Linked DNA regions of Homo sapiens. The protein of the gene in region 2 interacts with the protein of the main gene of each other region in a pairwise test. Each region holds a gene or a part of one and is shown on either strand. Other genes may lie near its edges.

Region 1 (3,811 bases), on a different chromosome or scaffold from region 2:
AGATGCAACGTCAGTGAGAATTTACACAGTGCAATTCAAGACTTTTCTGATAAAAATTATCTAACCTAAACTCAGTAATTCCCACTTCTACTACAAAAACATGCTAACTGAAGCCCCAATAGATAGAATTCCTAAACTTTCTAAACTATTACTGAATCACAATTCATGACCTCTCAAAAGCATTTTGTTTCATACATCCCTAGCACAAAGCATGCAAGGATACCAAATCAATATCACTGAACCTGATCAAATAAAATGAAACTCATAAGCAAAAGCTCTGGCAATACCCACTAAAGGAAAGACAATATTACTATCTTTCAAGAATATAATCAATAGGTCTTTACAAACCAATTGACAAAGGCAGGTTCATTTTCTAAATGATTCTGCAAATCTACTAGAAGGCAATTAAATTATAACGCAGATTACTTCTTTCCAAGAATGTGCAGTTTCTGCATATGCCAAGCTGCTGAAGAACTGTACTTCTCAGCTCTCACACACACATGCACACGCACGTGCATGCATGCACACACACACACACCACTATCAAACCAGCTCTGACCACTAACTTACAATTTACTTCTGTGCTTTACCTGGTCAAACTGAAAATGAAATTAGGAGTAGGTAATAAATTATTTAGATAAGGTGATTATGGGAAAATGAAGTATCATCTTAAATTACTACTCTTAAGCACTGGCATTGGGACACATTAACAATCCTCTATTTGTATTTTATTAATGGAAGTCATTAATAAATAAGTAGTCTCATCCAACACTGGCTTAGTTCATTCATACACTTAGTATTTCAGTTTATAGTAGGTTCCCCCCTTGGTATTCCCTGTACATAGGGGCATGCCCTATCATCCCAGGAGTGAATACTTGTAATGAGCCAAAGAATATTCCCAGGACTGGGGGAGTCCACCAAGTAGACCTTGGAAAATCCAATTCCTGCACCTTTGTTTCTTTATCTATTAGAAAGGGAAATGGAAATCATCTCTATCTGATAGGATTATTGGAAAGATTAAATGAGATAAGGTTGTAAAGTGCCTAGTGTTAGTTCTCTAGCTTTTTGTTTGTTTGTTTTTGAGACAGAGTCTCACTCTGTCGCCCAGGCTGGAGTGCAGTGGCGCGATCTCGGCTCACTGCAACCTCCACCTCCCGGGTTCAAGCAATTCTCTGCCTCAGCCTCCTGAGTAGCTGGGATTACAGGTGCCCCCACGACACCCGACTAATTTTTGTATTTTTAGTAGAGACGGGGTTTCACCATCTTGGCCAGGCTGGTCTTGAACTCCTGACCTCGTGATCCACCTGCCTCAGCCTCTCAAAGTGCTGGGATTACAGGTGTGAGCCACCGCACCCAGCCTTAGTTCTCTAGCTTTTTTATAGGTAAGGAAAACAGAAGGATCTAAGCACTTAGGCGACTCATCCACAGCCAATGGCTAATAAACATAGGACAGAACAAAACTTCTGACTTAGGGCTTAATGTTCTTTCCACCTCACCAAGCAGCCTTAAATTAATAGAACTCAACATCTCAGGTTTGTCACTGTTGGGTATTCACTACATGCAAAGAAAAAAAAAATTGACTATTTTGAACATCTATTACATGCTAGAAACTAATGTCTTTCTTCATAACTGCCCTATAAGTGTTATCTCATGTTACTAAGAAATTAACTTGTCCACAGTCACAAGGCTAACAAGTGACAACACAAGATTCATCCAGATCTGTTTAGTCAATGATTTTACCTACCATCCTTCTTAAAGAGTGTATTTAGATACCATTGTCTACCAGAATCAAATCCCAAATGGCCTGTGAATTTTTATAGATACTTGTGATTTATTAGTGGAAACTGTCCCTAGCTCCACCATCCTATCTACTTAAAAATTTGTTCCTATTAGGTTAAAACATAATTATAATAACTGTAGTAACAAATTTACATTTGTATAGCATGTTACAGTTCATTACATTTTTTTCATTTTTGTTAGATGCAACTACTGAGCCTTTTCATATATTAGCTCACATATCATTTAATATTTCAAGACTCTTATGAGGTAGGAGTTATTGTCATTTGACAAATAAGAAAACGGGCCAGGTGCAATGGCTCATGTTAAGAAGGCCAACGTAGGCAGATTGCTTGAGCTCAGGAGTTTGAGACCAGCCTTGGCAACATTGAGAAACTTCATCTCTACAAAAAATGCAAAAATTAGCTGGGCATGGTGGCACATGCCTGTACTCTCAGCCACCTGGGAGGCTGAGGTGGGTGAATGACTTGAGCCCAGGCAGTTGAGGTTGCAGTGAGGTGTGATCACACCACTGCACTTCAGCCTGGGCCACAGAGTGAGACCCTGTCTCAAAAGAAAAAAAAAAATTAGAAAGGTCATCTCAGATCTCTCTCTGCCCCCACAGTTGTCAGATGATTTCTAGTAAACGTTTAAAGGGCAGATATTTTAAACTGTTCCAGAGCACAGAAAAAAGTGAAAAGTTTCCTAATCATTCTTAATCCTGACTTCATCTTGACACCGAAGCCAGGCATGGATAGCAAACTTAAATGAAAACATAATATTAGATTTATCCTTTGTAATTACAGATGGAAAAGTTTAACATATTTAAGTGAAAAACAAAGGAATATGTGTAGTATAATCCCATTTGTAAAAGAAAAAACATTATGAAAAGAAACATGTCTGTATGTATGGTAAAATATGGAAATGTGTATTTATAGATAAATACACACATAAATGCAAAGATACAGGTTTGGAAATATAAACCTCAAACTGTCAACAGCAGTTTCTCCAAGATGGAAGTGGTCTTAGGAGTGAAGAAGGGGAAAAAGACAAAAAGTGAAGGGAGATTTTCAGCTTTTACTCTCTCTATATATATACACATACATACTATTCAAATTCTGAAACAGTGGGTTCTAGGATCGGCTATGCTATTAAGAAGCTGTTACTAGGTTGAATCACTCTGACTCTGTTTCCCCATTGGAAATGTGGAAAGCAGACCTACCTTATTATGACAGAAGAAAAGGAATTTATTTGAAAATGCGTAATAAAATCTGATGAATATGTGGCAGTGTTGCCACAACACCTTATGGTTTGTTATTGTTTGGTTTGATTTTTTTTATTTTTCCCTCACTTTGTCACTAATCAACCAGACATTCACAAACACAATTTAATTTCTGTATGCCTCATTGAGTGCAGGAAGTAGAGTCAGAAGACCTGAGTTTACACTCAGACCTTGCCTCTTATTAACTGTAAGGTTAAAAAAACAAGCAAATGATTAAACAACTTTGCACTTTAGTTTCCTGGCAGTAAAATAGGAATAAACCTACCTTACAGCATCATTTAAAACATTAAATGAGAAAATTATATACAAATGGCCAATAAAAACATGATAAGATGAAATACAAATGAAAATCACAATGCGATATCACTTCACAGCCACTAGGATGGCTATCATCAAAAAGACAAACATTAACAAGTGTTGGCAAGGATGTGGAGAAAATGGAACCCTCATTGCTACATTGCTATAACCCTACATTGCTAGAAGGAATGTAACCCTTCTAGCAATGTAGAAGGGTTACCCTAGAAAATGGAACCCTACATTGCTAGAAGGAATGTAAAACAGTGCAGCAGCTATGGAAAACAGTCAAGCAGTTCCTCAGAAAGTAAACAGAATTACCATATAACCCAGCAATTACACATCTAGGTATACATCCAAGAAAATTGAAAGCATATATACCATACAAAAACTTGTAAATGAGTATCCACAACATTATTTATTATGGCCAAAAAGTAGAAACAACCCAAATGCCCATCA
Region 2 (4,242 bases):
CGTGATCAGATGAAGAAACGGTGGCACAGAGAGGTTAAGTAAGTTTTCCAAGGTCACACAGCTGGAAAGTGACAGATCTGTGACTCACCCCGAGGAAGTCTGGCTCCTGGAGACTTTGCTGTCTATCGCCACTATCAATTTCTCTCCATCTCACCACCAGAAGGTCACTTCGTGCACGGGGAATCATAAAAGAGGGAATTTCTTGTATGATCTTCTGGGCCTTGGCTTTTAGGGAGCCAAGGTCTGTCTGAGAGATGAGTATGAATATTAGAGCTAGGTCTTGGAAGTTGGTAGAGGCAGGCTCGGCGTAGTGATACAGATTGGCCGCCTGAGGGTGCCCCAGCCCTGCTTGCGGAGCCTGGAGAGACAGCAGGAAGCCTTGGAAACGAATGTCAGGCTCAGACTCCTAGGACCAGAGAACGTTGAGAATAGAGCATCATAGAAGGCTGAGAACAAAGCCCCTTAGAACGTAGAACAAAGGCCCCTGGAATGGAAGAATGATGAGCACACATCCTCCTAGCACCTGGGAGACAAAAGCTGCTTAGACTCTCTTCTGGTCAAAGCATAGAATCTTCCACCCAGGGTCTTATAATTCCAGAATTTGGAATGCAATCGATCTTAGACTCTTAGCAGCAAGACCGGCTACATATTTGGCCTAGTGCAAAGTGAAAATAAGGGGCCCCTTGCTCAAAAACTAAAAATTTCAAGACAGAAATTGCAGAACATTCAACCAAGCGCGAAGACCCTTCTAAGTGGATTCCAAGCCGGTGAAGCCGGCCCTAAGTAGAAACAATTTCATCGGAGGACGTCCGTCTGGTTTTACAGCTGAGTGTCTGGGAAGGCTTCTTGGAAGAGGAGGCGAAGTCAGGGCTCGACCCCCTAACCCTTTTCTCCCCCTGCGCAGCCTCAGAAGCTGAAGGTTGGGCGGGGTGGAGGGGTAGGAGCAGCTGCCAAACTGTCACGTGTACCCATTCCCTATTTATAGATCACCCTTCCCCTCGCGCCGGACAGTCCAATGGTAGCCAGCGCTCGCCCGCAAGAGGGTGGAACCTGCTGCAGGACCGGCCAGGCACAGACCAATGGCATTGAAGCAAGGGCGGGCTTGTTTCATTGTGACGCGTGGGGGGGCGTGGCCAGGGCCCCGAGGCAGTTGCACGGAGGGGGCGTGGCGAGCGGAGTGAGTAGGCAGTTGCGAGCATGCGTCGTGTTGGGCGGTGCGGTTGCACGCCCGAGAGTCTTCGTCAGGAAGCTTATTCGCCAATAGGCGGCTGTTGCTCGGTCGCCGGGGGCGTGGCCATGCAGATAAGGCGCGGGTGGGCGGCCCAATGGGCGGGCGCCTATGCAGATGAGACGGTGACAGCCCGGCCAGCGGGCGGGCGGGCAGGCTGCTGGGGCGGGGAGGTGGGACCGGGAGAGGGGTGGCCGCGGGGCCCGGCCGGGCTGGGGCGGGGGGCCGCAGCCATGATCCGGGCCTTCTCGTTCCCGGTGAGCCCTGAGCGGGGCCGGCTGCGGGGCTGGCTGGAGGGTAGCCTGGCCGGGCTCTGCGAGTTACATTGGCTCCGGGAGAGGCAGGAGTACCGCGTGCAGCAGGCGCTGCGGCTGGCCCAGCCCGGAATGGGGGGCGCCGAGGCCGAGGACGAGGAGGACGCCGATGAGGATGAAGATGCGGCGGCGGCGCGCCGGGCCGCAGCGGCCCTGGAGGAGCAGCTGGTAAGGGGCTGCCTGTCCGTCCGTCCCTCCACCCCCGTCTGTGTCTGTCTGTCTCGGTTGGATGCTCAGACACCGGGCGGGGGTTGGGGACCCGGGTAGGCAGGGAGTGAGAAAGGACAGGGGGTGGGGCTGGCGACCCCGGAGTTCCGGCGGCGGGCCGGACCTGGCCTCCCCGCCCCCAAATCGGGGGAGGGGGAACTGCATCGCCCCCACTGGGGCCTCGTGAGAAACACAGGCCCTGTCTCTTACACCCCTTCCCCAAAGAAAATCCTTGTGGGCGCCAAGTATGTGTCAAACCCGAGACCGGGTACTTTGCAGGCGTTGTCTTCTTGCGGCTTGGGAAACGGGGTGATAGTCCCCATTTAACAGAGAAACAAATTGAGGCTCAGAGAGAGCAAGCGACTCACCCAAGGTGACACAGCCAGGCTCCAAACATGCCCTTCTCTGGGCCCCGCCACCAGGGCTCCATCTTCCCTAAGTCCTGGTGTGCTTGGAGATCTCTGGAGGGGGCGGGGTGGGAGGAGGGGAATCTCAGGGCCTCCAGAGGGAGGGACCACTGCTGAGAGGAAGCTCACAGTCCCTGAGGACCCCCCACTGGGATCTTGACCCTTTGGTGACACTTCCCCTGCTTCCTACCTGGCCCCAGCTCTCCTTGACCCAAGGGGAGGCAGGTCGAGGCAGCGCCTGGGGGAGACTTCTGGACTCTGGGTGTTCTCATGGTGGAAGATGGGCAGAGGTCTCCGGAATGACTTGAGGACGCCCCATGCCTCTCCCCTTTCTATGTCATTCCTTGAGTCTCCCGATCTCGTCCTGGGTTCTGTCACTCTCTCCGTCCTGCCACATCCCTGTGACTTTCTGTGTCTGCTTCTCTTTCTTCATCCTGTCTCTCTGTCTCTGTGATCTCTGTGTCCCTCTGCATCTGTCTCCTTGGCCTTCCCTTCCTGCCTGTCTGCACCTCGCTCTCTTCTTCTTGCCCGACGTCCCAGGCTCAGTCTGTCTTCCCCTCCCCCCAGCCCGCACACCCTGGCTCCACGGCAGATCCCCATCCCCAAGCCTGTGTGTGGCCAGAGCTTCCCGTTTCGGGAAACCTGAGCCGAGGTGGCAGTGGAGGGGGCTCTCCCCGCCGCTGACCTCGACCGCCCCCTCCCCAGATGGGGAGTGGGGAGGAAGACTGAAGCCAGGCTCCCGGGGCTGCACGCCCGGCCCCTCCCCCTCTCAGGAGTGGGACCCCCCTGCACATTCTTTTCTGGAAACAGAAACAGCTGTGGGAGGCCCCACCCCCTCCCAAAGTTAGAGACGGATTGTGGGGGCCTTCGCTAGCTCCCCCCACCCCAAGCTGGCTCGGCTTGGAAGGCGCCTTCCATCCTGACAAGGAGAATGCGAGGCATGAGGTTGGGGTAGCTGTGGGTAGCTGTGTCCTCTCCCCCTCTGCCCTCGGTCTCTCCCCTTTTCACCCTTCACCTTCCCCATCTCTGCCCTTCAGTCTCCCTCTCCTCGGTCCCTCTGTCCCCTCCTCCCCCTCAGCCCTCTGTCCTCCCGGCACGAGCTGATAGTGGAGAGGCCTGTCCCCCCACCCCCCAGTCTCTAGGCAAAGCTTGTCCCAGCATCAGGGAGGAGGCGGTGGCAGGCGGGGGGAGGAGGAGGAGCAGAGAAGCGCTAAATATAAACTTCTCTAGTGCTGGGGGTTCCTGGGTCCCTCTGAAGAGTGGATTAGGGCTTCTTCTGATCCCCCAACCCTTGTCTTATGACTTATCCCCCCACCCCCAGCCCCTGCCAGGAATACACTTCCTTCAAGGCAAGAAAGACTGAAGCCAGACTTGATTACTTTCTAATAGGAATGATGGGGATACCAGGTAAAGATCAGGGGTGTGGCAGAGAAGAGAGGCAGGAATCCTGGGTGAGGGCAGGGGCTCCCTGGGTCCTGCTTGCTCTCAAGAAGGAAAAAGGTTCCTTTCATCAAGAATAACTTAAGTTAGACTTGCAGAATGACTTCCTAATAGAGATAAATGGGCACTGGATACCAACGAGGGGCACGTGAGGGGAGAAACAAGGTAAGGGAAGTTTGGGCAAAGGGGTCTCCAGGGGTCCTAACCACACTCTTATTAAGCCTGCAGAGGAAGGATGAGGGGCACCGTGAGGAGGCAGAGAGCCAGACTCAGGCCAAGGACTTTCTAATCTTTTAAAGATTCATCCTTTTGCAACTGGAAGGAATGAGGCCAGACTTGCAAATAGAGGGGTGTAGACTTGGAATATTTTTGGGGGGCGTCTAGGTGCTGGAGAGGAGGAGGCATCTCCTGTCTGTCTCCCTAATTTCTGCTCTTCCTTGTAATGGAAGAACCGGAATTAGACTTGGCAGAACTTACCAAAAAGTCTATCCTTTCACGTTTATTTATGTATTTTTAAATGATATATTTATTTATTCATTTATTTTTGGAGACAAAGTCTCTCAGGCTGAAGTGCAGTGGCACGATCATAGCTCACTGCAGCCTCTAACTTGGCCTCAAGCAATCCTCCTGCCTCAGCCTCCCAAGA

Evidence for each region.
Region 1: the proteins of DACT3 (region 2) and SESTD1 interact in a two-hybrid assay, tested with the Homo sapiens proteins (one large-scale study listed by BioGRID).

Annotation. Positions count from the first base shown.
Region 1 is NC_000002.12:179,258,169-179,261,979, forward strand, and holds part of SESTD1 (SEC14 domain and spectrin repeat-containing protein 1), read right to left. Parts: intron 1-3,811. UniProt on the Homo sapiens protein: May act as the primary docking protein directing membrane turnover and assembly of the transient receptor potential channels TRPC4 and TRPC5.
Region 2 is NC_000019.10:46,658,284-46,662,525, reverse strand, and holds the start of DACT3 (dapper homolog 3), read left to right. Parts: upstream 1-1,343; 5' UTR 1,344-1,461; coding exon 1,462-1,710; intron 1,711-2,117; exon of another isoform or gene 2,118-2,162; intron 2,163-2,845; exon of another isoform or gene 2,846-3,563; intron 3,564-3,575; exon of another isoform or gene 3,576-3,716; coding exon of another isoform or gene 3,717-3,761; intron 3,762-4,242. UniProt on the Homo sapiens protein: May be involved in regulation of intracellular signaling pathways during development. Specifically thought to play a role in canonical and/or non-canonical Wnt signaling pathways through interaction with DSH (Dishevelled) family proteins.